7 separate regions of the Homo sapiens genome follow, and all the other regions are linked to region 6. The links come from fine-mapping of genetic effects on gene expression. A gene starts in region 6. Each other region holds a variant in brackets. All regions are shown on one strand. Distances are from middle to middle.

Region 1 (4,066 bases), 770 kb before region 6:
TTTGTTTTAAAGCATAGTGGAGAATTAGGATTTAAAGAGAGATGGGGCTACATTTTAGATGTCATTGAATGTTTTTGCACAGAATATATGGCTAATATATGTTTATTGACTGACAGTCTGTCTTAGAATTAGTTCAGAATTGACCCTGTAAAGAGGGTAAGTCATTTAAAGTTTTTAGGTAGATATATGGCAGAGATACGGTTTTAAAATTATTCTGATGATGTAGGTTTAATGACTAAAGGTGAGAGGCTGGAGATTGGGGGACTTGTTAGTGGGGTGCTATGAAGTCTGGGTAAGTTGGTGAGTGTGGGTCAGTAGTGGTAGCTATGGAAATTAAAACAGATATGTACCCTCCCCTTGTAGAGCTTAAAATCTTGTGAGTGATACAGATGAGCAAACTGGCAATTCAAATACAGTGAGATACAGAAGGCAGAATGCAGAGGAAGGGAACCTATTTAGCTTGGGGTGAGGACATGAGGAGTTAGCTCAGAGAATGCTTCCTAGAGGAGGAGACATTTGTCACTAACTTGAAAAGGATGTATGAAATTCCCCTGTGAGAATACTATGATGAAAGATTCAGAAAGTAAAACCTTTAGAGGAACATGAAAAGTGTTGAGAGAGAGAGGAGTTGGGGAGTAAGGAGAGTTACCTGTACTCCATTACTTGTGTGGTAATGGGAAATCACTTCTCTTTGCTGGGCTTCAGTTTCCTCATTTGTAAAATGTAGGGTGGCAGACATGCTCTTTGAGGTTTAGCCTTCTAACTGAACCTTGTAGCTTGATGTGTTTACCATGGTTATATCCTGAGGAGTAGTTGTTCTGCAGCAACTCTTTGACAGGACCTGAGAGGGGAGAATGGGACCTTGTACTGGGAGGTGAGGGGAGGAGCCCTTGTTTCCCCAGCCTCACACTCTCTGCTTGGTTAGCCTGAAGGTGACAGAGCGGCTCACGCAGTAGAGACAGGAGTTGGCATTGGCTGGGGCTGAATTAGATCCAGAAGGTGGACAAACTGTATGAAAAAGAGATAGAAGAAGAGACCATAGTTTTGTTAAGGCAATGGTGATACCAAAGTCAGAATCAGGGTGGCAAACCTATTTTGGGGAGAAAAGTGATGAGATCTCATTTGGATCTTTTGGACGTGAGGCAGATTTAGAATAGAAATCTCTAGTATTGTTTAGTGATATAAACCAGAGCTTACTGGAGAGGTTAAGACCAGAAAGAGATCTATGAATCATTTGAATAGAGATGACTTAAGGTTGTCAGAATAAAATCACTTTCTTTTTTCTTTTTATAAATGTTTAGATTTATAAAATATAAAATTTGAAAAAATTTAAGTCTTTTGATTCATAAACACAGAATGTCTTGTCTTTATTTTTATTTTTATTTTTTTTTGAGACAGGGTCTTCGTCTGTTGCCCACGCAGGAGTGCAGTGACACAATCTGTGCGCACTGCAACCTCCGCCTCCCGGGTTCAAGTGATTCTCATGCCTCAGCCTCCCAAGTAGCTGGGATTACAGGCATGTGCCACCACGCCCAGCTAATTTTTATGTTTTTAGTAGATACAGGGTTTTTGCCATGTTGGCAGGCTGGTCTCAAACTCCTGGCCTGAAGTGATCACCTGCCTTGGCCTCCTAAAGTGCTGGGATTATAGGTGTGAGCCACTGTGCCTGGTCAAAAGCACTTTCTAAGAAGAAATTAAAGTAGAACTGAGGGTTGAAAATTGATCTTTGGGAAATGACCAGATTGGGAGAATGAGGGATGATGGATGTGACTGCATAAATTTACCTTTGAAGAACTTAGAAACTATTCTGTCTGGGCTGGGTAC[G/A]CTGGCGCATGCCTGTAATTCCAGCACTTGTGAGGCTGAGGCAGGTGGATGGCTTGAGCTCAGGAGTTTGAGACCAGCCTGGACAACATGGTGAAACCTGTTTCTACAAAAAATAGAAAAATTAGCTGGGTGTGATGGCAGGTGCCTGTAGTCCCAGCTGCTGGGGGTGAGGGGTGGGGGATGGTGGCTGAGGTGGGAGAATTGCTTGAGCCCAGGAGGTCGAGCCTGTGGTGAGCCCAGATCGAGCTACTGCACTCCAGCCTGAGTAACAGAGCAAGACCCTGTCTCAAAAAAAAAGAAGAAAAAGAAAAGAAAAGAAAAGAAAATGGTATGTCAGGGACCAAAAACGTCTAAGAGGAGGGGGTGATTCAGACTGCCAACTGCCAGACCTTTGGGAGAGTGACTTGGCCAGAAGGTATCTGTCCCAGCATGGGTTCTCCAGGAAGCCAATGTTAAGACACTGTTAGGAATACAAAAGTGTTACCTGTGGGGTGGGAGAGAGGAAATGAAATTGGGAAAAGGAACTGTCAAACCATCATATGGATTTGGCAAAACCAGGAGCTCTGAAGCAAAGATTGCCCCTTATGGGACTCCCACATTGAGGAAAAGTGATCCTACCACCCCGCTCTGTCACTGGGACCCTGAAAGTAGCTGGAGGCTATCAGCTTAACACAGTCCTTGTAGCTGGGTAGCAGTTACCTACTTGAGGGGGCATCTGAGTGGTGCATCTCTGTGTCTACCTCAGAATCCATTTAGAAAAGCAATTTCAAGAGATTGATAGGGATAGAAGTCATATTTTAGGGACCATGCGGGGTCAGGTTGGTGAGAAGGTGGGGCAGCCGAGGGAAACCTCACATTTGTGATTTTTTTTCATTCTTTTATTTTTAATTTTATTTTATATATTTTTGATTTCTGTATATTTTAATGACTTCAGATTTGTGATCTTTCTTAAATTAAAAAATTTTTCTTTTTGAGACAGGGTCTTACACTGTCACCCAGGCTGGAGTGCAGTGGTGCTGTTATGGCTCACTGCAACCTTGAACTCCTAGGCTCAAGTGGTCCTCCCACCTCAGCCTGCTGAGCAGTTGGGATTGCAGGTGTGCGCCACCATGCCTTGCTAATTTTTATATTTTTCATAGAGACAGGGTCTTGTTATGTTGCCCGGGCTGGTCCCAAACTCCTGACCTCAAGTGATCCTCCTGCCTCAGCCTCCCAGTGTTGAGATTATGGGCATGAGCCACTGCGTCCAGCCAGATTTGTGGTCTTTGTCACCACTTTGAATGCACACTGTGACTTCACATTTTCTCTTGGAGATGAGTGTACTAAATTAAACTTCTAAGGAGGTGATAGTCAAGGAGCTCAGAGCCCCCTCTTCTGTTATAGAGCCTTCTCTCACACCTGCTTGTTAATTCTTATTGTGTCCTTTTCTCAGAAGTCTGTACTTGAATTTTAAGAAACTGGACTTCTCTACTAGATCTCAGGCCAGACGAGTTGTGCTTGGCTAGTTCTGGTGGTGTTAAGAACTAATGGAGGCATTGTTTTTCACTCTGAAAGTGATCTGAACTAGAGATTCCAATTAAAAATTCTTCTAGAAACATGGTAGTATAGTAAAATAAATGCAAAGACCCAGATCTAGATGAAGATGGTAAAGTAGCAAAATGAAATTTAAAAAAAGAAAAAAATTCTTGGAAATTCTTAAATGGGACTAATTTAGCAAACATTTGTTGAACAGCTCTCTCATTAGGTACTTCATTAGGTTTTGGTATTCACAGATGGCTAAAATACGTATTGCACAGATGGCTAAAATACAGACTCTCTCTTTAAGGAACTTACAGAGTAGTGAGAAAGATAAAGAAGCTTGCTGGAGTTAAATCTCCTCACAAATCATTTACCTTCTTAAAAGACATTTGTGCAATATTTCACTGGGGGGCTGGACTCTCAGGAGGCTGTCCCAAATTGGGGGACTTTGTTGTCCATTAGGGTGACTTTCTTTTTTTTTTTTTTTGAGATGGAGTCTCGCTCTGTGCCGAGGCTGGAGTGCAGTAGCACCATCTCGGCCTGCCACAACCTCCATAGGGTGGCTTTTTAAAGAGGTATGGGAAAGCATGCTTTGTGGGTGGCTCAGAGGAGTTAATTTTATCAACTTTATAGTTCTACAATGATCTTTTCATTTTCTAATTTTACTGGTGCTTTCTAGCAGGAGCCTTGTTTCACCTAGTCCTGATACTGCAGCAAAATACCA
Region 2 (4,066 bases), 160 kb after region 6:
ACTACAAGGCTACAGTAACCAAAACAGCATGGTACTGGTACCAAAACAGAGATATAGACCAATGGAACAGAACAAAGCCCTCAGAAATAATACCACACATCTACAACCATCTGATCTTTGACAAACCTGACAAAAACAAGAAATGGGGAAAGGAGTCCTATTTAATAAATGGTGCTGGGAAAACTGGCTAGCCATATGTAGAAAGCTGAAACTGGATTCCTTCCTTACACCTTATACAAAAATTAATTCAAGATCAATTAAGGACTTCAATGTTAGACCTAAAACCTAAAAACCCTAGAAGAAAACCTAGGCAATACCATTCAGGACATAGGCATGGGCAAGGACTTCATGTCTAAAACACCAAAAGCAATGGCAACAAAAGCCAAAATTGACAAATGGGATCTAATTAAAGAGCTTCTGCACAGCAAAAGAAACTACCATCAGAGTGAACAGGCAACCTACAGAACAGGAGAAAATTTTTGCAATCTACTCATCTGACAAAGGGCTAATATCCAGAATCTACAAAGAACTCAAACAAATTTACAGGAAAAAAACAACCCCATCAAAAAGTGGGCAAAGGATATGAACAGACACTTCTCAAAAGAAGACATTTATGCAGCCAACAGACACATGGAAAAATGCTCATTATCACTGGCCATCAGAGAAATGCAAATCAAAACCACAATGAGATACCATCTCACCCCAGTTAGAATGGCGATCATTAAAAAGTCAGGAAACAACAGGTGCTGGAGAGGATATGGAGAAATAGGAACACTTTTACACTGTTGGTGGGACTATGAACTGGTTCAACCATTGTGGAAGACAGTGTGGCGATTCCTCAAGGATCTAGAAGTAGAAATACCATTTGACCCAGCCATCCCATTACTGGATATATACCCAAAGGATTATAAATCATGCTGTTATAAAGACACATGCACACGTATGTTTATTGCAGCACTATTCACAATAGCAAAGACTTGGAACCAACCCAAATGTCCATCAATGATAGACTGGATTAAGAAAATGTGGCACATATACACCATGGAATACTATGCACCCATAAAAAAGGATGAGTTCATGTCCTTTGTAGGGACATGGATGAAGCTGGAAACCATCATTCTCAGCAAACTATCGCAGGGACAAAAAACCAAACACCGCATGTTCTCACTCATAGGCGGGAATTGAACAATGAGAACACTTGGACACAGGAAGGGGAACATCACACACCGGGGCCTGTGGTGGGGTCCGGGGGATGGGGGAGGGATAGCATTAGCAGATATACCTAATGTAAATGACGAGTTAATGGGTGCAGCACACCAACATGGCACATGTATACATATGTAACAAACTTGCACGTTGTGCACATGTACCTTAGAACTTAAAGTATAATAATAAAAAAAAGTATATTACTAAGTGAAAAAAGCAAGGTTTGGAACACCTTGTATAATATACTACGATTTATGTTTAAAAAATCCACTTTTGGCTGGGCGCGGTGGCTCTCGCCTGTAATCTCAGCCCTTTGGGAGGCCGAGGCGGGCGGATCACGAGGTCAGGACATCGAGACCATCCTGGCTAACGTGGTGAAACCCTAGCTCTACTAAAAATACAAAAAATTAGCCCGGCGTGGTGGCGAGCGCCTGTAGTCCCGGCCGAGGAAGGAGAGCGGCGTGAATCCGGGAGGTGGAGCTTGCAGTGAGCTGAGATGGCACCACTGCACTCCAGCCTGGGTGACAGTGAGACTCCATCT[CA/C]AAAAAAAAAAAAAAGAAAAATCCACTTTTACATATATGTCTATATTTAGAAATGCTTGGAATATATCTAGAAGTTACACTAAAACATAGTGACAGTGGTTGCCTCTGCTACTGGGGGACAGAGATGTAATGAGACTTACTTTTTCCTATGTCTCATTTTGTACTTTTTGAATTTTGTACTATGGACATGATTATTTATAAAAATTGAATTAAAACTCATACCAAAGCAAAAACAAAAAACAAAAAACAAAAAACAAAAAACTACCTCAGTAACTCCAAACCCTTTATGCATTTCATAATACATTTTTTATACTTTTAGAAACCAATTTCTCTTCTTTGGAGGAAGCAGTTACCAAAATTCAGCAAGTCTTATAGTTTCACTTCAAGTTCAATTAAATTCTAATAGTTTTAATTTCAAACAAGTATATCTAGTATAATCTCCCTCTTTTTCCCTTCCTCCTTCTGTATTAGTGGGGAAGGAGGTGTTTAGTGTAAGCTATTTTTACTTTCTTCCTTGTATTTTTCACTATTGGTTGAATTTTTAGATATGAACATAAGCCACTTTCAACAAAAAGTAATAAATTTATTTTCAAATATATCTCCCAGGACTAGCTCATTCCAATGAAAATATTTGTTTCTGACCATGTCAGGGACTTGGAAAAATTACTTTTGGAGCTCTGAAAGATGCTCTGAGTCCCAGGATGGTTCCTAAAAGTCAAAGCTGCTAGTTGGGGATAAACTTTTTTTTACCTCTTTCTTCTCAGGGAGGCCTCTTTCCTGCCCAAGACCTGAGGCTCTGAGTCTAGACTGGGGGTTTTGGAAGGACTGTCCATTCGATGTACTTCTCTGCCTCAGCCTACGTGTCCCTCAAAATCCAGGTCCAGATAGCCAACTACCTTCTAGACGTTGCCACCTGGTTAAGGAGAATAAAAATCATTTCAAGAGCCACCATTTACTGAACATCAACTATGCAGTAGATACACTTTGTCATTTCTTACAATAGTACTGCAAATAAAAAATAGCTTAAACACCTCCTTCCCCACAAATACAGAAGGAGCAAGGGAAAAAGAGGGAGATTATACTAGATATACTTTTTTGAAATTAAAAGTATTAGAGTTTAATTGAACTTGAAGTGAAGTGAAACTGTAGGACCTGCTGAATTTTGGTAATTGCTTCCTCCAAAGAAGAGAAATTGGTTTCTGAAAGTACAAAGAATGTATTATGAAATGCATTTTCTGGAGAAACTGAAGCTCAGCTGAGTTAAAGTGATTTACTAGGGTCCAGCTTATCAGCAGTACAGCCAGAATGCAAAACCAGGTTTGTCTGTTGCATTCAAGCTGCTTTCCGTGGGCATTTGACATGTCCAAACTCAAATTCACTGTCTTCCTTCTCAAGCAAACTCCTCCTCCTGTCTCACAATTCATCACCCTCACAACCATGCAGACAGGTGCCTGGTGGTATTCCTGGTCTGCCTCTCAACTCCATCTCCTCATCAAGTCCTGACAAGCTGATCTCCAATAGCTGTCAAACTATCCTGTCCACATTTACTACCACCTCATTACCTCTCACCAGGCTATTTCCCTATCCTTTTACCTGGTGTCTCCCTGTCTCTAGCCTCTGCTGTTTCAGGCCAGCTCTCACAATCTGTCCAGAAGAATTATTCTAAAATATAGATTTGATCCTGATGCTTCCTTACCTGCAGGCTTCTCTTTCCAAAGTGTCCTAAATGAAATTCAAACTCATTAATTGGCCTTCAAAGCCTTCAATTTCCTTGGTCTCAGCCCACTGTTCCCACCTTGTTGCCCATCTCTCTGGGACGTGTAGCTCACACTTAGTTCACATGACATTCCTTCTGTTCCTGAAGTATGCCAAGCACTAGAAGATGCCTACATGCTTTTGCTTCTGCTGTCCCCCTGCTTGGGATGACTTTCTCTTCCCCAGCTCAAGGTGGCTCCTCCTGAAAACCTTCCCTGACTCAACCCCACTGAGCTAGCTGCTTCTTCCTCTTTGTTCCCAGGTACTTTATGGCCTGTTAAAGTTTTATCACAATTTATCGTAGTGACTTTGTCTATTCTTATGTTTCCTCTCCTAGACAGTGAGCTTATTCGTTCATACATTTGTTTAATGTTTATTGAGTGTTTACTATGTCCCTGGCAATGAGCTGGGAGCTAAGGATACAATGCTAAGCAAAACTGACATGCCACATCCTCTGGAGCTCATTATTCAGGGGAACAGAGATTAATCAGAGAAACATCCAAACAATTTCACACTGAGAGATTTTACAAAGGAGAAGGGATCCGAAGGTACCAGCAAACCCT
Region 3 (4,066 bases), 51 kb after region 6:
CTTCCAGGCACTGGGGATCTGTGATGAACATAGCAGGCAGGGCCTCTGAGACACTCAGGCACAGGGAGAGAAGACGCGGCAGCCTCCTGTGTTTTCATGGCTGCTTCCTCACCCTTCTCAGACCTCTACGCCTCCTTGGAGAGGCCTTCCCTGATCGCCCATTCTAAAATAGCCACACACTTGCTATTATTCTCTATCCCCTTAATCAGTTTTTCTCCATACCATTTATTCCTGCTGATGTTTAGTTATGTGTTTTTCTGTCTTTCCCTCTAGCATGTAAGCTCTGTGAGGGCAGAGGTTTGTTCAGAATTATATCCCCGGGCCCTAGATAGTCCCTGGCACATAGCAGGCGCTCAATATTTCTTGAATAGATGAACAGTATCTAGACTGAATAAAAATCTAGACTATGGGACTCAGACATCTGTCATTTTTTAAAAAGCCTGATGAGGAGCTGGCACTGAGACCCATGTTCTGATGTACGTTAGGTCCCCCGACACCTCCCTGGGTGATGTCACTGGTTGGGAAGAGGTTGCATTAGGGGCTGTGCTCGTCGGATGATGATGCAGCAGAGTTAAAGGCTTAAGATTCTTTTCATGCGCAGTGTGGTGCCTTGGATTGGCCCTCCCCAGGAACATTGTCCTTGTCAGCTCTCAGGGGCTTCTTAATTAGAGTCTTACCTCCTTCCCCTTTGCCTTTCCCATCCCCAGCAGCTGCTGCAGACCTTATCTTTCCTCTCTGATCAAGGAAAGCACAGCCAGGAATGAAGGGCTGTCTGAGGATGACTGAGGTTGTCAGGGTGACATCCTTGAGGACACAGAGGCCAGCAGGAATTTTAAGAGTTCTGTGGGGATAAGATGTCCTGACCAAAGATCTGCTTCAGGGGGACTAGTCTGACTTGCTGTGACTGATGTCAAAGCTGCCCACATGGCTATAGAAAGTGAATCAAAAGTATATAGTTTCATTTGTATTTCTCTTGGTCCACAGGAAAAGCAAAAGTTTCTGGGACAAAATTATTATAAAGAAGGACCTGAAGGAAATGATATTCGAAAGACAAATGTGGCTCAGATCCGGATGGCATTCCGATATGAGACCTTATGCAATGAGCTCAGCTTCCTGTCTGATGCTATGAAATCAGAAGAGATCACCGCCTTGACCAACTAGGTCCAGCATTTGACATGCATTTTAACTTTTTGGTTCAATTTCAAGTCTGCTGTGGCTAATAGTGGTCAAGATTCCGAACTAGGACTTTCCTCTGTGAAGAGGATGCCTCTGAAGAAATTTTAAACTGGTGATTTTGGTTGCACTGCTCACTTTAAGAGTTAACATGCTCACTTGTTAGTATTTCTGAGTAACAAGATGGTGACTTCTCCTTGGGGATCTGGGAGCTGAGCACTTGTCTATACTTGTTCCTAATTTTCCAAGTATTTCTCTTGAAACTGCCAGTGCCTGAACTGTTGGGGCCAGGATTTTCCCTGGTCAGATGCCAAGTAACATGTGGTTTTCTGCCATACTTTTCTCCATTGGCCCAGGTAGGCTAATTGGTAGTTGTTCATTTCAGCCTCTGGATGGCTGGCTGCCTTAAACACAATCAATTTCAAAGCTCCATTTCATAAAGGGGCTACTTTGAAGGAGTTAAGATGGAAGACTTCCTTCTTGACAAATTGTGTTTTTAGTGAATTTCTTAAACCGTTTTATTTAGCCCTCCTTCCCTCTTTCTAGTTGGAAGCCAAATGTACTCATGAAAACAGCCACTCCTATTCTGAGTCTTGGTTTCTTCACCTAGAAAGTGAGGGTTTGGACTAGATGAGTGGCTTTCAGGGTGTTCTGTGAATCTCCTCATGAATACTTTAGGGTAGGGGAGGGAAGGGAGTGAGTGATGCTCAGGGGCTGTCAAAGTGACTGCGTTCATCAGTTTTACACTGGGGCTGCTACATAATATTTTCATTTGAACGAAGAACTTCAAAAAGCACAGGACTAGATGATCTCTGTTCCTTTTGGCTCTAATATGCTACAACTGTAGGCCAATTATCACTTTACCAATTAAGAGTTAGGCCAGATAAGTGAAATTTAACTTAAGGGCACACAGCTAATAAGTAATAGGCCTAAACTGGATTTCCTTATTCCAAATCCTGTCTTTTCCCCACTATTCCATTAGACCCCACAAATGTTAGTTGTGTGTGTGTGTGTGTGTGTTTTTAATCACTGTAACCGGATGCATTTTTTTAAGGCA[A/G]AATTTCTCCCTTATCTACTATGATGACTTCAGAAGATACAATGGTCCCAGGGGCCAAGTAGAAAGCATTTTTAAAGATTAATCTGAATTAAGCTTTATCAGTGTACTCTTTATCTGTGTTACTAGTGCCTGGTATGTAGTAGGTGCTCAATAAATGCATATTGAATAACTAAGTGAATTTCTTTTGGCAACTTTTTAAGGACATGTGCTCTTAGTACTTAAGAGGCTGCTCAAGGACCTTCCTATCTATTTCTGTGGTCAAATTCAGACTACAGGAGGTCTTTTTGAATCATTATAGTTAGAAGAAGAATCCAGTTTCTGCCTGTGAACTTATTTGACTTTAGATTGTCTCATCTTGTGACTTTATAATGCCTGTCCCCTCCACTGGTCAATTCAGCATATGGAAGTATAAATGCAGTCTTTTTACTAGGCAGATATATATGCTATCTTACAGCTAATTATGAAATTGAATGAAAATCCATTGTTATCTTAGGGATTAGTTTTGAAAAGCCCCCGTTTATATACATTTGCCCTAACATAGGAAGTATTGTGTAGTTTCTCATTGTCATTTTATCTGTATCAAGTATCTTTTTTTAAATTGTTAAATAAAGTCAGCTAGGACTGTGGCTCAATAGTTTAAAACTATTTAAAGATAATCATATTTAAAGCAAATGTTAAAGATTTTTACTCTTAAGATTGGGCACCATGAAAAGCTATCAATAATAATAGCTAATTTATCTTTTACTAAGACTCCGACATGAATGACATTCACTAGGAAAACTCAAAATTTTCAAACTGAAGCTCACCAGACCCAGAAGATAAATCTTCCTTTGTTATTTTCTCTAACTTCTACCCTGTTATAGTTCATGAGCAAAGCTATACATGTTCCTTTCCTTTTCCCGGGGTATTATTTTAGTCTGTCCAGCTAACACCTTGTTGATATGGACTCTAGAATAGGATTGCGCTGTTATCCCTAGGGTAACTTGTTCCGTTGGTCAAGTTATTGGATCAATTAAACGTGGTAATTCGCTTTGACTGGTGAAGTCTCGGCATGTGTTGCTCGGAGGTCGGATTGTGCTCCGAGGTCGCCCCAACCGAAATTTTTCACGCAGGTTTGATAGTTTAGGGCCTGTGGACTTGTTAAGTGTTGTTTGCGTTAATGAATTAAAGCTCCATAGGGTCTTCTCGTCTTGTTATACTATGCCCGCCTCTTCACGGGCAGGTCAATTTCACTGGTTGAAAGTAAGAGACAGCTGAACCCTCGTGGAGCCATTCATACAAGTCCCTATTTAAGGAACAAGTGATTATGCTACCTTTGCACAGTTAGGGTACCGCGGCCGTTAAACGCATGTCACTGGGCAGGCGGTGCCTCTAATACTGAGAATGCTAGAGGTGATGTTTTTGGTAAACAGGCGGGGTAAGATTTGCCGAGTTCCTTTTACTTTTTTTAACCTTTCCTTGTGGGCATGCCTGTGTTGGGTTAACAGTGGGGGTAATAATGGCTTGTTGGTTGGTTATAGATATTGGGCTGTTAATTGTCAGTTTAATATTTTGGTCTGATGTAGGCTTATGCGGAGGAGAATGTTTTCATGTTACTTATACTAACATTAGCTCTTCTATAGGGTAATAGATTGGTCCAATTGGGTGCAAGGAGTTCAGTTATGTGTTTGGGATTTTTTAGATGACAGGTGTCGAGCTTGAACGCTTTCTTAATTGGTGGCTGCTTTTAGGCCTACTGTGGGTATTAAATTTTTTACTCTCTTTACAAGGTTTTTTCCTAGTGTCCAAAGAGCTGTTCCTCTTTGGACTAACAGTTAAATTTACAGGGGGATTTGG
Region 4 (4,066 bases), 38 kb before region 6:
TGAAGTGCTGTTCAGTTATTGATGCCAGTCCCTCTTCTCTAGGGGACTGTGACAGCTGTAGCCAGATGTGTCCAGGAGATTATCTCTGTCCTGATTCTGTCAGCATCCTCTTCATTTATTGTCTGGTTTTGCTTCTAAGTCTTCTTCTGCATCTCAAGCTGTCTGCATGCCATACTGTCTGCATTGAAATGATTTGCTTGCTTAAAATGAGTCTTGGCCAGGTGCAGTGGCTCACGCCTGTAATCCCAGCACTTCGGAGGCCAAGGACTCCTGAGGTCAAGAGTTCGAGAGAAGCCTGGCCAACATGGTGAAACCTCATCTCTACTAAAAATACAAAATTAGCCAAGTGTGGTGGCACATACCTGTAATCCCAGCTGAGACAGGAGAATCGCTTGAACCCGGGAGGCAGAGGCTGCCGTGAGCCGAGGTGCCACTGCACTTCAGCCTGGGCAAGACAGAGGGAGACTCTGTCTCAAAAAAAAAATGGGTCTTAATATCAATAGTGGGGAATTCTCAGTCTCTCCATCAGCAGGTGCTGAAAGCTCACAATAAAGGAGAAAATTTTCAATAGCTGTTTTTTTTTTTAAGAGATGGGGTCTTGTTCTGTTACCCAGGCCAGATGCAGTAGTGTGGTGATCATGGCTCACTGCAGCTTCAACCTCCCTGGGTCAAGTGATCTTCCCGCGTCAGCCTCCCAAGTAGCTAGGACTACAGGTGTGTGCCACCAGACCCAGGTGATTTTTAATATTTTATAGACATCTTGCTATGTTGCTCAGGCTGGTCTCAAACTCCTGGACTCAAGCAATCCCGCCATCTTAGCCTCCTGAGTTGCTGGGATTATAGGCGTGAGCCACTGCTCCCGGCCCAGTAGTCATGTTTTTGAGGAAGTTTATTTTTATCCAGTATGTTTGGCTCTGCATGGGTTCCTTAAGATACTAGGGACTGTCTTTGGGTCACAAAGCCAGCATGACACTAACATGGGTCTCAATATCCTTTGCTTGATAGCTTTGGACCTGAACATCACCTGACAGCTCCACACACTGTGTTCTGGCTTGTTCCTAATCCTGCCAGTTCCTGACCTGCCATTGTTCCATGTTTGGCTTCACCTTGTCTTTTGCACCTGACATTTGGTCCGTGCTGCTGGCTCTATTCCACCTATGGCAACCTGAATAAAAACTCTCTTTCCAGCCTTGTTTCTAAAGCTCTTCCTTGGCCCAGATCCCCCTAGGTGGCTTCTACCAGCCTTGTCCAGTTGAGGAGCATGGCCTAGACACCTGTGAGGGTCTCTGCCTGCCTCCAGCTGTGCCCAGGATTGGCTTCTCCTCAGCTGTGCCTCATGCTGGGCCACATCATGGGAGCAGGCTGGTCAGCAGGGGTGGATGCTGACCTACAAAGGGCTCCTTACTGCCAAAAGTCATTGATTCCCCATCCTTCTGGTCTACCATTAAACATCTGTAGCCACTTAGGGTTTTGACTTTTAACTATTTCTTGACCACATACCTCCATTACCCTCCAGAGAGCACCCTTTTAGAAATAAATGTAATAGTTACTACATTTGTTCAATGATTTACAGTCAACAGAGCACTTTAGTATATTCACATGTATTATCTCATTTCCATACTTTCTTTTTTTAAGCAAACATAAAATAATTTTATCAGATACAACAAAAATTAAAACATAACAAAAGTATCACATATAATGTTATATTCCCATTTAAATATAACATAGAAAAATACTACAAAATAAGAAATACAAAACCAAAACCTAGATAAGATTTTATTTATTATGATGGGTGTGCTTGCCTGTTCATAAGTTCATTCCAGTCTGGAACACAGGAAGATAATGCTACCCACATAGCTGCTGCACCATTTGATCCATTCCTTTCTGTTGCTTTTAACTGAGTTAAGATAGAAAACCCTAGTTCACACAAACTAGTTGTTGTGAATGGTAGTAATAGTAGGACACTCTTTCTACTTAACAAAGGAAAGTCTTCCTTTACCTTAATTCAAAATGCTGATAAATTTAAGGTCTCATAATCATTCTTCAATGTATATGAAGAACTAAACTAAGATAATTCATTCTCTTCTTCAGGCACCAGTTATTAACTAAGCCCAGTTATTGATTCTGGGTTTCAAAAAGCAAACTGATTGTTTTTTTTTTTTTTTGAGACGGTCGCCAGGCTGGACTGCAGTGGCACGATCTCGGCTCACTGCAACCTCTGCCTCC[T/C]AGGTTCAAGTGATTCACCTGCCTCAGCCTTCCAAGTAGCTGGGACTAGAGGCGCACACCACTACACCCAGCTAATTTTTGTATTTTTAGTAGAGACGGGGTTTCACCATGTTGGCCAGGATGGTCTTGATCTCCTGAGCTCGTGATCTGCCCGCCTCAGCCTCCCACAGTGCTGGGATTACAGGCGTGAGCCAGGGCACCTTGCCGCAAGCGGATCTTTTACCCAACTATTTTCCCTGAATGTTTCAAATTTTTCTTCTGGAAAGAAATGGTTAAAAATTTGAGATAGAGAAGTGAGATTCAACAATGTCTCTAATTTTATTTCTTTCAAAATGTTTCCATTAATAATATTCTCTTCAATATGTTGCAAAAATCTTGGAAACGTAGTAGCTAGGACAGTTACTTGTAAGTCTTGCTTGCCATAACAATAATGTCTTTCGAAATCCCTGGATATGTCTGACATGTTGGAATACATCACTGTTTTTCCCCCGTGGTTTTAAATTCAGTTTATTAAGAATACCAAAAATACCAGTTAAATATGCCAATTTTTTTATCCAAATGTCATCTTCAAAAATATTTGCCAAATGAGATTTTTTTCAATGAGAAAAAAAGTCAATCTGATTCCTGAGCTCATAAACCCTGCTTAGTATTTTCCCTTGAGACAACCAACGAACTTTGGTATGACACAGAAAGTGGGTATGGTTAGTTCCAATCTCTGAACAAAACGTTTCAAGAAGCTGGTTATTCAGTGAGTTTCCTTTAATAAAACTGACAACTTCACTGCATTTTTCAGTACTTCCATGAGATACTGTGGAATTTCTCTGGATGCTAAACCTTCATGATGTATAAAACAATGATTCCACACAGTACAACTATTAGTCACTTCTAGTAATTTTTTAATGACTCTGCTGTGTTTTCCAGTTACTTTTGCTGTGACGTCACCTGCAATTCCTTTACAGTTTTTCCAGTTTAATTTATATTGACCAACTCTGTGCCTTTCTAATCCTGTAAACATATCTAATCTACTTGGGTATGAGGTTAAACTTAAAAAACACAAAAGACCCTCCATAAAATCATCTTTCCACGCATATCGGACATAAACTGAATGTCTTGTGCAGCTGCCAATATCATCAGTGCTTTCATCACACTGCTTTGCAAAATCTATACCAGACTGTTATGGAGTAATAAGCATTGTTTCTAAACGTTCTGCAATACTACAAATCCAAAGAGATAATTGTGTTATCATTAGATATAGTTTTTAATTTATCAGCTAATTTCTCATCAAAAATCATATGCATTGTATCCAAACATGCTGGAAGAATAATTTTTTCAGCAGCTGTGTTAGCTATGTTCTTTTTGCCACATGATATGCAACTAAATATGATGATACGGCTCTCTCACTAACAGTAGTAGAACAACTAAGAAATTGTGTTGATCATTTTATGTCTTCTTTCTTTCTTCGAAAATATTCAAGAGGCTTATCAATAAGTTCAGCATGCTGAATTTCTAAGTGCCTTTTTAATTTAGGTTTTAAGCTTTCATTTGCAAGAATATTATTACAAATAACACACTGAGGTCTGTCATTTTCAGTGGGCTTTTCACATTTGATAAAGCCATATTTTAAGTAATCATAATAGCGTCTTGCACTTAAGTTTTTCTTTTTGAAATGAGGCTCAAATGAAGTTTCAGTTTGCAGATTAGAGTCTGTATTTTTCTCAGTATTGTCACTATTCACACTTCCAAATTCAACAGATGAACTTCAGCATGCTTCTGTATATTTCATTTCATGATTCCTCTTTCTTTTAATAAAGAAATTATGCATTTAATAGCAATTTTTTCC
Region 5 (4,066 bases), 590 kb after region 6:
ACTTGGTAGGAGGACTGTGGAGGTACAGCAGGACCAGGCCTGTGGGCAGGAGAGGTGCCAGGACTGATCAGACTGGAGCTTGGCAGGGTTACTGGACCAGTTCCTGTGGTGGCTGCCAGGTACCCCAATGAAATAAGCCTGGTGCAGGCTGGCATCATCTGGTGCAGGGGCCTATGGGGAGGGGCAGCAGGCATCTCAGGAAAGCAGGGAGCCCGGAGAGGATCAGAATGGCCCTTTAATGAGCCCCTCTTGTGTGTTGGCATTGCATCTGTGTCAAGTGGGTGGTAACAGCAGAGCACAGGAGGCATATCCTGGAACCCAGAGAAAATGATGGCAAGAGCTAGGCCAGGAGCCATGCTGCAGCCTCGGAGACCGAGGCTCAGGGCACAGCCAGTTCCGGCAGATAATTGACATGCTAGGCAGGAAACAGAGGCAGAAGCCCAGTCATATGACCTAGATTAACATGATAGAGCTCAGGGGAGCCAACGAGTCTGTGAGAACACAGTGGTCCCGAGTTCTCTTGGGTCCCACCTGCTAATGGGGCTGAGACTCCCAGCCTTCTTCCCATCCTGCTCAGGGAAATCTCAAGGACTGGCCAGAGCTGACTGTGTAGCTGTTTTGCTTGAGAGCTGAGAGCCAGGAGGGGCTGGAGAAAACAGGATCTTTGGCTTTCTCCCTGGCTATAATTCACCATTTCTACTTCCCACCCAAATACTATGCTTTCTGTAGCTGGGATCTAGGTTTGAGTTTTCCTTCTTCTTACACTGCCAGCCTCTTGGCATCCATGGGCTCTTTTGATTAGCAGCCAGCAGAGTGTCTTCTAGTGGTAATGATGCTCCCAGGTTTGAAAAGTTCTTCTTTATTCCCAGGGATGAAATACTTCAAGCCCTTCATTATCTCTGTGTCGATGAAAAGAGTCAAACTCTGTGAAATATTTCAATAGATTTATTCCAGGCCAAGTATGTCACATTGCCTGTGACACAGCCCTCAGGAGATCCTGGGAACATGTGCCCAAGGTGGTTGGGGTGCAGCTTGTTTTTTTTTTTTTAATACATTTTAGGGAGGCATGAGACATCAATCAAATACATTTAAGAAATACGTTTGTTTGGTTCAGAAGGGTGGGACAACTCAAAGTGGAGGCTTCCAGGCTATAAGTAAATTCAAACATTTTCTAGTTGACAATTGGTTGAATTTGTCTAAAGGCCTGGGATCAATAGAAAGGAATGTGTGGGTTGGGATAAGAGGTTGTGGAGACCAAAATTTTACCATGCAGATGAAGCTTTTAGCTAGAAGCCTTCAGCGAGAATAGGTTGTACAATGTTTCTTATCAGACTTAAAGTCTGTGTTGACGTTAGTGCCAGAGAGGCATGATGAGGCATGTCAGACCCCCACTTTCGTTCATGGCCTGAACCAGCCTTTCAGGTTAAAATTTAAGAGCCCTGGCTGAGAAGGAAGCCCATTCAGATGGTTGGGGGCCTTTAAATTTTATTTTTGATTTATATCTGTTAAAGAAATGCTTACCTCTGTGGGGAAGCTGAGGTGGCAGAGGGATGGAGCTCTCCTGAAGTCCAGAGAAGAAGGAGGAAGAAGCATGCACATGACTCCGACCTCTAAGGAGACTGCTAAATGAAAGCATTACAAATGCAGATGGGGTAGGGGTGGAAACAGAAGTCAGTTGTGGAGAAATGATTGCACAAAGATCCAGGGTGGTATGTGGGCAGATGAGGAGATACACATTCACCACTGGGCGAATTGTTTCCGAGAATCTATGCTGAGTCCTGTGATGGGTTCTAGGGACACATAGATGAGTGAGGCACTGTTCTTGTTCTCCAGGAATCCGTAACCTAATTAGAGAGGCAGGCCAACCAATGGACAATGTTCAAACAACAGGGAAAGCAGAGAATATTATGAGAATGGAGAAGAGGGGGCCTTAGGCTCAGCCTGGGATGCAGAGTGAGGGAAGGTGGTACAAGGAAGGCCTCCTGGAAGGTCAGATGGCTGAGCTGCTTCTTAAAGGTGGGAGAGGCAGCTGGTGAAGAGGGTTGGGAAGGGCAGTCCAGGCAGGGCAACAGCATGGGTAGAGGAGTGGAGGGAAGCTTTGGACAACTGCAAGAC[A/G]CTGGGTGTCTTGGAGAATACAGCAAGAGGCAAGGAGTAGCATGGCAGGAATCAGGAGGTTGGAGATATCCAGGGGTGGGCTCTCTGGTCTTTGTCAGCCCCAAATGAGCCAGAAGTCCCCAAAGAGGCAGGAAAATTGGCCAGGCACAGAGGAGAAGGGCTCTGTGATGGAGGTAACTCAGAGTCCAGGAGAATCCAGCCTGTCAGGCTAATGTGGTCATGAGTTTGGATCAGGGGTTGACAAACTATGGCCTGCTGGTCCCATCTGGCCCACCCCTGTTTTTGTACCTAAAGTTTTATTGGAACACAGTCACGTGCATTCATTTACATGATGTCTCTGTGCTTTTGTGCAGTTATAGCAGAGACTATATGGCCCACGAAGTCCAAAATACTTACTTTCAGGGTCTTTAAAGAAAAATTTTGCCAACTTGTGGTTTAAGGCAATGACCAGCTGGATGGCAGGGTTAGGAGGCTGGGCAGCAAGTCAGCATATGTCTTTTGCAAGGGTGTGTACAAGGTGGTCTCTGCTCAGGCCAGTGTGGTTCAGGCTGGGCTTGGGTCATCTGAGCTGGCTTTAGTAGCCACTGGTTTTAGCTGGTCTGTTGAGATGCTGCGTGGAGCTCCAGAGGGCTTTGCTCTAATGGCACCTGGCTGATTGATAGAGGCCTTTCACTCAAGACCCTTCAGAGCTACCCAGCTGCCTGTGTCCTGGTAGCAGAGCAGCCTGGGCTCTCCTCAGATGAGGTTTCCTCCCCTTTCAGCAGTTCTTAAAATGGTATCTGGGTCTGGGGAAGTAAGGATCTGATTCTAGGATTTCTCTAGGGTGGACCCTCAGGTTTGTTAGGGTCAGTGGGTGAAGACCCTTACCTGCAGCATGGATTCTGGCTTCCTAATAGGCCTCATCCCTGGTCCGGCCTCTTGGAGTCATAGATTTAGTGCTGGAAGGATCCATAGAATTTTCTATTCTAGTTTGACCCCTGTTGTGAAAGTCTGTAAATTCTCTAAGATTCCAGCCCCACAACATTCCTTCCAAAAGCCATCAGCTGTAACATCTCCACTGACTTCCAGATCTTGCTCTTGTTCCAGGCAGCCCATTTCATGACTGTGAAGTTCTAGGGAAAAAAAATTATCTGTGTCTTCTTTTAGGCTGTCCCATCTGTCACTCAGGGAGCCATACAGAACACAATTCCCTTTCTCCATGGCAGCCCTCAGATTTCTGAAGAGAAAAACTGTGCACCAAGTCTTATCTCCAGGTTAGGAAGCTGCGGTTCTTTCACCTTTTTCTGGGTTCTGGGACTTCCTGGACACACAGCTGCCTGCTGATCTTCAACTCAAGTTACAGCACCCCAAACTGCCCACAACAATCTGGGGGTGTTCTGACTTGGATCCAAGGTCACCAAAGGTCAGTAGACTTTCTCTTGGGAACAATTTCTAGGAGCCATGACCTGTAATGGTGGACTCCTTTGACCTCCAGGTTGAGGCCCACATCAGGCTCACTTTTGATGAAATATGCCAGGAGCATGCACAGCTGGGGAAAATATTAGGTGCCTCAGAGAATCTGGTACTAAGGGATTGCTGGAGGACTTAATGGGATTGAAAAATAGAATTAGACGATACCTGTGTAGGATCAGATCACCTCTACAACATTTAGTCCTTGGAGGAGGGGCTTTGTTCTGCATCTTGCCTCAGTTGGACAGCAGAGAAATGGATAATCCAGAGGTGTTCTGCTACTCTGCACATCCTCAAAAGCTGACCCAAGGAACCGAGGCCTCACCTTGCATCTGGCTTTTGGGACAAAGCCAGGTAACCAGGAGGTGCACTGTCTTATGCTACCCAGGACCTAGTGACCTTCTGGTGGGCACTGGAAAAGGATTGGGATGGGAGATCTGCTGCTCTAAGCAGTCACATCAGACTTGCTTGCTTCCTCCCCTTTGAGTTAATTTTTGTGTAA
Region 6 (4,066 bases):
CCTCAGCCTCTCAAGTAGGTGGGACTACAGGTGCGCACCACCATGCCCAGCTAATTTTTTGTGTTTTAGTAGAGATGGGGTTTCACCACGTTGGCTAGGATGGTCTCAATCTCCTGACCTTGTGATCCACCTGCCTCGGGCTCCCAAAGTGCTGGGATTACAGGCATGAGCCACCATGCCCGGCCGATATCTTTCTTGATGAGACATAATTTGATTCCGTCCTCTCCTGTCTTTTAGAGTTTGTAAGGGGTGCTTAAGTGATAAAAGGGGATGCAGTCTAGTCTCGGGCAGGAGAAGCGGGCCCTGTATCTGGTTATCATAAATTGTCTTGATGTTTGTTCGAAAGGGAAATAAGGCTTTGAGCTTGGGATCAGTGCTCTTCAGTCCACAGAGACATCTTGGCTGCAAGAAGCAGCAACAAGTTAGGCTCAAGGTGGAATTGTGAGGTCCTGAGAAGAGCTTGCTCTTCTGGGACAGAACTGTATTTTTCTTCTAAACTGCCCATGTTCTGGGGAGTCTTCCCGCCTTTTGGCTTCAGCAGGACCCTTGGTCATTGTTACAACCTGTGTCATCTTAGTGGAGCTGCTGCTGGTTTCTGTCTGAACCCGATGCAATGGGTCTCATACCTGTAAACTGGGCTCCAGGAAGGCAGCTTTCTCTAAGTTGGAAAATGAAGACTCAAGGTGGAGGGTGTTTCCCAAAGCCGATACCACAAGATATTAATAGGTGTTTTTTTCCTATGACAGCAGTTCTAGGATGGTCAAATAAGTGCGTCGGGTTAAACAAAGTTAAGCAGCTTTCTTTACTGCAGGACTTCTCAGGTGTTGAATTTGCTAGTAGAAACTGTGCATGAATACCCATAAGGGACTACAGGATGCAGTGTTTTCCAAGCCTTCTGACCTTTCATGTTCTGCAGACTGCACTTTGAAAAATGCTTGTTTAGACTAAGGCTAGCTGGGATCCGGTTAAAGGTGCAGAATAAAATTCCCTGAACGTGTCGGACTTAAATCCTTGGGCTGGAATCCTCCCACTGCAGTCCCCACTCTACCTCCCCTTTCCCCAAAACACTAGCAGAAAAAGTCATCTGCCCCTCCTCCTTCTGGCAGAATAGTACTAAGGGCTTGGATTTTTTTCTCATACTGTAAGTTCATTTAATTGTTTAATGAATAAATATTACCCTCCCTCTAGGTTGCTTGTAGCCTGCTGGTTGCACTGTTTATGAAACAGCTGTGAGGACAGGTGGGCCGTAATCTCTGGGTAGCTAAAGCCCAGCAGCAGCCCGAGGATCATGTGTCAACCCTGTAATACTGCTCTGTGCACACAGGAATTATGATGTGAGCTCAGTAAGACACAACCTCACGATTGGACATGCGGAGGTGACTCAGGCCCAAGTCAGGGTTACAGCTAGCCTCCCGGTAAACAACTGACCCATCCTTCCTGAGCTCTTCTCCCCAGGATTTCAACAGCACCACAGAAATAGCCATTTTGCTCATGGTTATTTCCCAGGACCACAGGATTTGCCTAAGTCACTGGGAGGCTATGTGTCTGTTCTGAGCCTTCCCACTCTCCTAAAGGGCAGATGAAGATCAGAGCTTTGCACCCTGTGATGCCATTTTAATCAACCCTGCTTGGTTTTAGAGGATTGCTCCTGTGGGTCACTTGAGGCAGGCTCCACCTTCCCCAGGAGGAGTGGCAGAGTCCAGCCAGCGCTCGGAGCTGGAGGCCCACGTGGGAGCAGTGAGCGGCTGTAAGCAGGGGAGGGTTTGGGGTGGGCTCCGGTGGGTCAGTTGGGGTGTACTCCTTTTCTGTGTGTGTGGATGGGGGTGGGGGTTCTGGTAAAGCTTATCAGGCTTCGCAGTCACCTGTGATGTGGGCTTCCTTCTGGGAAGAAAGGAAGGAGTGGGATGGGGCTGTCAGCTTTTCATCCTAGCCTGCCCCTGTCCTCTGTCCGCCTCTGTGCTGAGGCAGTTCCTGCTCCCTGAGTCTCTGTCCTTTCCTGGGAAAGGTGGAAGCAGTTCATGGTCTTTCCCTTTCAGAGGAGGAGGGGATGGAGGGGATTGTATTAGCAACTGGGATTGAAGCTCCCCCTGGCAGTTATGGGGTGCCCTTGGGAGGGCTGCTTTAGGGGGGCTTTCTGAGAAGAGGCAGGTCGGGCTGTACCTGAGACCAATCCCCTTGATAAAATGCAGCCAGGCCTGAAGCACGTTCAGAACGGAAGCAGCAAAGGTGATGATATCGCTCGTTGCTACTCAGCTTTCAGGAGGAGGCTGGGCGTTAGAGGGAGGCTGTGGCTTATCTCCTGCAGCTGGGCAGGACGGCTGAGTTTACTGTTGTAAAGAGGAAGCCGCCGCTTTAGTTTCCTCTTGTGAGGGCTGTGAAGAGGGCCAGGACACTGCATTCAGGATACCACAGCCATTTTGTTTTGGATAACTGGGATTACCTGGGGACTTCAGGGCTCTTGGAAATTTTCCACTCATATTTCATATTCACGAGAGAATTTCCAGCCCAGGCTTTTCCTGCTCTGGCTCACTGCTGCTCACAGATATGCAAAACAGAGACCTCCTACTCCAGCCGGCAGACAGGACCCAGCCAGCTGCACGCACGCACTGACTCAGCTGAGCCTCCTGGGTGGCAGGCAGCACCTCACCCGGGTGCATCACTTGAGTGGCATCTTCAGGACCAGTCATGGAGCCAGGCTCAGGTCTGTGTCGGGGCTTCTGCAAGGGGAGTCTGGCAAGAGTAGGAACCAGCTTCCTTCGTATAACGAGGGGATTTCAGTGGCACTGGGCTTCCTTTCTGGAGGGACTGTGGCACCATGAAAAGTTACTGTTTGTTGAAACTGGCAGTGTTTTAGAACTTTCTAACTTTGGGACACTTCTTCAAGTTCATCAGAGCGTGTTGCATGTAACAGTGAGATAAGCTGTATCATTGGCTGACTGATGCTGGTGAATTCACAGCTAAGCCTCCCAAGCCTGCTGGCTTCAGCTGACAAAGGGTTGGAAGCCAGGCGTGAACATGCAGCTGGAGCTGAAGCTCTGCTTGGCATCTGCAGAGTGAGCTTTCCTTGTCAGGCCTGGCCTGGCAGGTGTCTGGAGGGTCTGAGAGGAGAGACACTCTGGAGGGACGGGTTGGCAGGTGGGAGCTGTCTGCCAAGGACATCCAGAAGGCAGCAGATGTGGGGGCAGCTGCTAAGGCCTGCAGCACCCCAAGTGGGTTACTTGGTCCATACTAAGATATGGAATTAATTATTTTGTTGTGGTTGCTGTTGTTTCTTGCTTTTTTTTTTTTTTTTTTGAGAGAAGGTCTTGCTCTGTCACCCAGGCTGGAGTACGGTGGTGCCATCATGGCTCACTGCAGCCTGCACCTCCAGGACTCGAGCAATTCTCCCAACTCAGCCTTCCAAATAGCTGAGACCACAGGTGCATGCCACCACACCTGGCTGTTTTTTTTTCTATTTTTTGTAGAGATGAGGTTCTGACATATTGCACCAGGCTGATCTCGAACTCCTGGCCTCAAGCGATCCTCTTCAGCCTCCCAAATTGCTTGGATTATAGGCATGAGCCACTGCACCCGGTCTTGGAATGAATTATCTACCAACTATTTAAGACACTGGTAGTAGTTCTGCGGAAGATTTTTATGGGTTCTGTAAAACAAAAAGGGTTCTGTATGTTAATGTTACTCTATGATCCTTGATTTTAATGAGCCTTATGAATGTGAGTTGAGGGGCTGTGGAATGCAACATCTCCCAATAACTGACCACAGGACCTGTTTTACCAGCAACAGGTATCAATTTCTTATGGCATCCAGTTTGGGAAAGGTTGATTTAAGCTAAAGAGAAAGGAAGATATGTTATAGAAAGCTGTGTCCTGAAAAGTATTTTTAGTTGATTAGAGCAAGCTAAAAATGCTTTGTGCGCTGGTATGATGGCTCACACCTATAATCCTAGACCCTGGGAGGCCAAGGCAGGCGGATCACTTGAGACCAGGAGTTCAAGACCAGCCTGGCCAACATGGTGAAACCCCATCTCTACTAAAAATACAAAAATTAGCCAGGCATAGTGGTGTGT
Region 7 (4,066 bases), 41 kb after region 6:
AACTGAAAACTATCTGGGAGGAGAGTACTTTGCTCGGATGGTCAAGGTGAGTGAACCCTCAGTCTCTCTGAGGCCTCTCAGGTGCCTCCCAACATCTGCCTTCAGAGAGTGGGGGCCCTGTGTGCCCCTGGCCCCTTCCCCTCCCTCTGTGTACCATCAGCTCAGGGAAGGGTGAGGTGCCCAGGTGCCCAGTGCTGTGGTCTGGCTGCCTGCTCCAGGCAGTGCTGCATGTGCCAACTGCAGGAAAGAGGAGGGAAGGGTATCCACCTTGGCCAAGCTCACAGCACCTGGCCTGGCTTTCGTGTCTCTGCAGCCTGAACCTAGCTGGGTGCAGATGAGCTCCGTGTGGAGATGCTTCTGCTGTGGCCTGGTTCTGCAGACCCAAGGCCTTCCTCACCAGAGGGGGCCTCTCCTAAAGTGGAACAAGAGCTTACAGGAGCAGGCAGCCCTGGGGATTTAGATGAGTGCTTCCAGCCTGGGAGCAAGGTGGCTGGGGGAGCAACAGGACCCTGCTGGTGACGGAGAGTGAGAGTCTCCCATGTAGCTGGGATGCACTGGGGCTGACCCAAGCTCTTCTTGTGCCAGGAGGTTGCCCGGGAGCTGGAGGAGAGCAAGTACCAGTACTCAGAGCCACGGCTCTCCATCTACGGCCGCAGTCCTGAGGAGTGGCCCAACCTGGCCTACTGGTTCATCCAGCACAAGGTCTACTCTCCCAACATGCGCTGGATCATCCAGGTGCCCCGGATTTAGTAAGTGAGGTGGCCCGCTGTCTACCCTGTGCCCTACAGAGGTGACAATCTGTCCCTCATGGGCTGCTGAGTCTGCACTCCTGAGGGGTAGGGCCTGTTCTGGTGCCAGCTTACGCTTGTCCTTTCCAGGGATTTTTCCATAGAAGGAGTGATGAAAAAGATGTCTGCATGACACTAGAGCTCTTTTTTTTTTTTTTTTTTGAGACAGAGTCTCACTCTGTCACCCAGGCTCTGAGTGCAGTGGCATGATCTTGGCTCACTGCAACCTCCACCTCCCTGATTCAAGCAATTCTTTGCCTCAGCCTCCCGAGTAGCTGGGATTACAGGCACCCGCCACCACGTCTGGCCAATTTTTATATTTTTAGTAGAGATGGGGTTTCACCATCTTGGCCAGGCTGGTCTTGAACTCCTGACCTCGTGATCCACCTGCCTCAGCCTCCCAAAATGCTGGGATTACAGGTGTGAGCCACTGCATCCAGCTGACACTAGAACTCTTGATCTTTGAAAAATATAGATGTGCAAAGGCCTTGGGGGAACTACTACCCCCGCCTTCTTCTCATTGTGGGTTGAGGATGGATTGTCCTTTTGGTGAGCCCCAGGGTATGGGGAGAGCTGTAGTGGTCTACATTGCTGGCCTCTCCCTGGATGTCACTCAGACGGCTGCTGTCCTCTCCAGGCGGCTGGCCAGGGTGGAGCCCATGGCTCCAGGATGGGCTGGGGTATGTGGTTTAGGGAAACAGAGCTGAGTAACAGAATGTTTGGGTCACTGGGAATTTGAGGATTCATATCTCAGTCTCTTGGTCAGCCAGAATGCCACCATCCCATTCCTAGTGGCTTCTGGCTTGAGAAAGTGCTCTGATGGGCATGGGTAGGTGTGGAGCTTGCAAACCAAGGCAGAATATTGCAGACATTGCTGGGAGAGGAGGACAGAGGAGGGATCTGTTTTCTGGTCCCATCTGACTTGATTCTGGGTGTTTGATGGGGACACAGGGTGCCTGAGGAAGTGAC[T/C]GGGGCTGGTCTCTGACAGGGCAGCAGGCTGTTGGATCCACCTGACAAGCGAGTCTTTGCTGTCCCCCAGTGACATATTTAGGTCAAAGAAGCTGCTGCCAAACTTTGGGAAGATGCTGGAGAACATCTTCCTGCCCCTTTTCAAGGCCACTATCAACCCCCAAGATCATCGAGAGCTTCACCTCTTCCTTAAATATGTAAGTGTGGGTGGTGCCCTAGGCAGGGCTCATAGCGGCAGAGGCAGGAATGGATTCGCTGTGAGCTGGGTCAGGCTTGCTCCTGCCCTTCACGATGGTATCTTAGGTCCTGCCACCTGTGTTCCAGGCGTGGGGTCACCAGCCCCAAGAAGCTAGATTTCTAAAAAGTCCCCTTCTCCTCAGGGGCAGCTCTGGGAGTCAGTGGGTGTGGGGGGATGGGGGTGGTGGTCTTGGGGTAGGCCTTTCCCCCAGCAGGGAAGGCAACAGTGGGCAAAGACTGGGAACTCGGTTCCTGCCAGGTGGGGCTGGAAAGGCTGGATCTAGCCCCCGGCAGCACCAAGCAGCAGCCTCAGGTTTTTTTTTCGGAAATGCAAACACTTCAATTCACCTGCTTTACCTCGCAACAGAGGCCCTCACACCATGTGTGATTAAGTACAAGCCCCTAAAGTGTATTTCCCTTCCGGATCCAGTTGTAGGAGAAGGAGAGGAGCAGTCTGGGAGAGGCTTAACCAGGGAGGGAGGCGGAGGGGGCGGGAGCCGGTCCCACCCTCCGGATGCCTGGGATCGAGGGGGTATCAGATGGTGATACAGGCCAGTGCCTGGTGATGGATGACTTTCTACAGGGAGAGGCACAGCGGGGAGCCCGAGGGCTGGGGCACGGGGAAAGAATTGAGTCTGTGTGCCCAGAAAGTGACTGGACAAGCTGAGGGACATCATCAAATTTATGTTTTAGACAAACATATTCTGGCTGTTGTGTGGAGTTGGCCCAGAAGAGAAGGTAGCTGGAGGTGGGGGCAGGGGTGAGAGTCAGGGGCCTGCCTGGAGACAGGAGGGGAGCTTGACCCAGCGGAAATAGCTCACACTCGTGCGTGCTTCTGCCTGGCCTGGTCAGACGCCACAACGTGATCTCACCTAAGCCTCACAATTACCCCGTTACTATCACCATTTTGTTGTTAACAGTAAGCGGAATTATTATGTGCTTGGTGCGTGTTGGACACGGTGTTGAGTGCTCTCCCTGGATTATCTCATTTAATCCTCACCAAAGCCCTGTGAAGCTGCTAGCTTCAATTGACACACAAGGAAATTAAAACAGATCATAAAGCTAAAAGTGGCAGAGCTGGAATGCGTTTCCAGGCAGGCTGACTCCAGCGATGTACCCTGAACCCCTATTCTATGTTGCCTCCCAAGTGAGAATAGTAAGGTGCACAGCAGCTACCAGCTTGCGTCTCTGAGGTGTGGCAGCGCAGGGACTCTGCACAAAGTGTGGGGCTTGGTGAGAAGCGGTGGGCGTACACCTGGCAGGACCTGGACAGAGACTGAAGGAGGCACTGGGGGGAGTCTAGGATGCCTCCCAGGTGCCTGGCTTTGCAGGAGCATGGATGATGTGCTGTCCGAAGGTTGCTGCCAGCAATGGAGGAAGAGCAGGTATGGGGAGGAGGAGGAAGAGCAGGAGGAGGAGACAACGCATTTTGCACCCGAGGCTGTGGGAGATGCAGTGGTGAGGCCCTGCTTCAGCTGGATAGAGCTCTGAAGAGGGGCTGAAATTATCCGCATGCCAGGCCCCAGAAAGTTCGGGTGAAGTATGGAGCTAGTGAGCACAGAGCAGAGCTCAAGGTCCTCCCTGGCCCCCCAAACCCGTCTAGGGAGTGCTTAGGGTCATAGCAGGGACCCTGTCATTTCCTTTGACACACAGGGCTCTGTGACACGGAAGATTCTGGCCAAGCTGCCTTGCTCCTCTGGGCCTTTGCTGCCCCCATAGGAACAGGAGAGGCCAGCAGACCTGGCTGGGGTCTGGGGCGTGGGCTGGGAGCCCTCCAGTTTGGGCCAGTTGTGGATTAAGGGGGACAGTCTCTTTCTCCCATCTGCTATTCAGAGGCCCCTTTGCAAAGCACTGCCGTGGCCTGGTAGCAAGCCTCCCCTGTGCGCTGAGAGCCCGTACCCTCCATGCATGTGTTCTTGGTTGGGGATGACCCCTGGGATCAGCCAGAAGGCTCCAGTGACTCAGGAGCAGCCCCCCAGGGGTCCCAGCCAAGGTAGAACTGCAGTGGAAGGGTGGGGGTTTCCTGAGGCTACTCAGGCCCATCTCAGAGGGCAGCTCCCAGTGGGGATTGG

Direction of the effects. Positions count from the first base shown, and alleles are read on the strand shown. Sizes are in standard deviations (SD) of each study's normalised expression. Not every link is listed here.
For the expression in lymphoblastoid cells of the gene that starts at base 1,563 in region 6, C is the low allele of the variant in region 2 and CA is the other (large effect, 2.0 SD a copy in TwinsUK).

The links. PIP is the estimated chance that this variant, and not a neighbour inherited with it, causes the effect.
Region 1: its variant is fine-mapped to the expression of AMPD3 in monocytes (Quach 2016, PIP 0.95).
Region 2: its variant is fine-mapped to the expression of AMPD3 in lymphoblastoid cells (TwinsUK, PIP 0.95).
Region 3: its variant is fine-mapped to the expression of AMPD3 in whole blood (INTERVAL, PIP above 0.99).
Region 4: its variant is fine-mapped to the expression of AMPD3 in atrial appendage (GTEx, PIP above 0.99).
Region 5: its variant is fine-mapped to the expression of AMPD3 in cerebellar hemisphere (GTEx, PIP above 0.99).
Region 7: its variant is fine-mapped to the expression of AMPD3 in whole blood (TOPMed, PIP above 0.99). The same link has a PIP of 0.9 or more in prefrontal cortex.

Annotation. Positions count from the first base shown.
Region 1 is chr11:9,681,304-9,685,369 of GRCh38, forward strand. The region is part of intron 1 of SWAP70 (switching B cell complex subunit SWAP70); the gene reads left to right. Among named protein-coding and RNA genes, the nearest start is that of SWAP70, 19 kb to the left of the region's middle. The variant G/A (reference allele first, on the strand shown) is at 1,825.
Region 2 is chr11:10,614,543-10,618,608 of GRCh38, forward strand. The region is part of intron 10 of IRAG1 (inositol 1,4,5-triphosphate receptor associated 1); the gene reads right to left. Among named protein-coding and RNA genes, the nearest start is that of LYVE1, 48 kb to the left of the region's middle. RefSeq lists a silencer at 2,976-3,176. The variant CA/C (reference allele first, on the strand shown) is at 1,748.
Region 3 is chr11:10,504,724-10,508,789 of GRCh38, forward strand. AMPD3 (adenosine monophosphate deaminase 3) reads left to right here. Exons shown (of 15, transcript NM_001025389.2): 15 at 985-2,856. The coding sequence ends at 1,161. MIR4485 (microRNA 4485) reads right to left here and starts at 3,603; the gene lies at 3,547-3,603. It also overlaps the pseudogene MTRNR2L8. The variant A/G (reference allele first, on the strand shown) is at 2,231.
Region 4 is chr11:10,415,771-10,419,836 of GRCh38, forward strand. The region is part of intron 3 of CAND1.11 (a long non-coding RNA gene); the gene reads left to right. Among named protein-coding and RNA genes, the nearest start is that of AMPD3, 37 kb to the right of the region's middle. RefSeq lists a silencer at 291-504. The variant T/C (reference allele first, on the strand shown) is at 2,227.
Region 5 is chr11:11,045,270-11,049,335 of GRCh38, forward strand. No RefSeq gene overlaps it. Among named protein-coding and RNA genes, the nearest start is that of LINC02752, 68 kb to the right of the region's middle. The variant A/G (reference allele first, on the strand shown) is at 2,116.
Region 6 is chr11:10,453,702-10,457,767 of GRCh38, forward strand. It overlaps AMPD3 (adenosine monophosphate deaminase 3), which reads left to right and starts at 1,563. Exons shown (of 15, transcript NM_001025389.2): 1 at 1,563-1,747. RefSeq lists an enhancer at 2,438-2,487.
Region 7 is chr11:10,494,985-10,499,050 of GRCh38, forward strand. It overlaps AMPD3 (adenosine monophosphate deaminase 3), which reads left to right. Exons shown (of 15, transcript NM_001025389.2): 8 at 1-46; 9 at 586-749; 10 at 1,828-1,954. Among named protein-coding and RNA genes, the nearest start is that of MIR4485, 11 kb to the right of the region's middle. The variant T/C (reference allele first, on the strand shown) is at 1,758.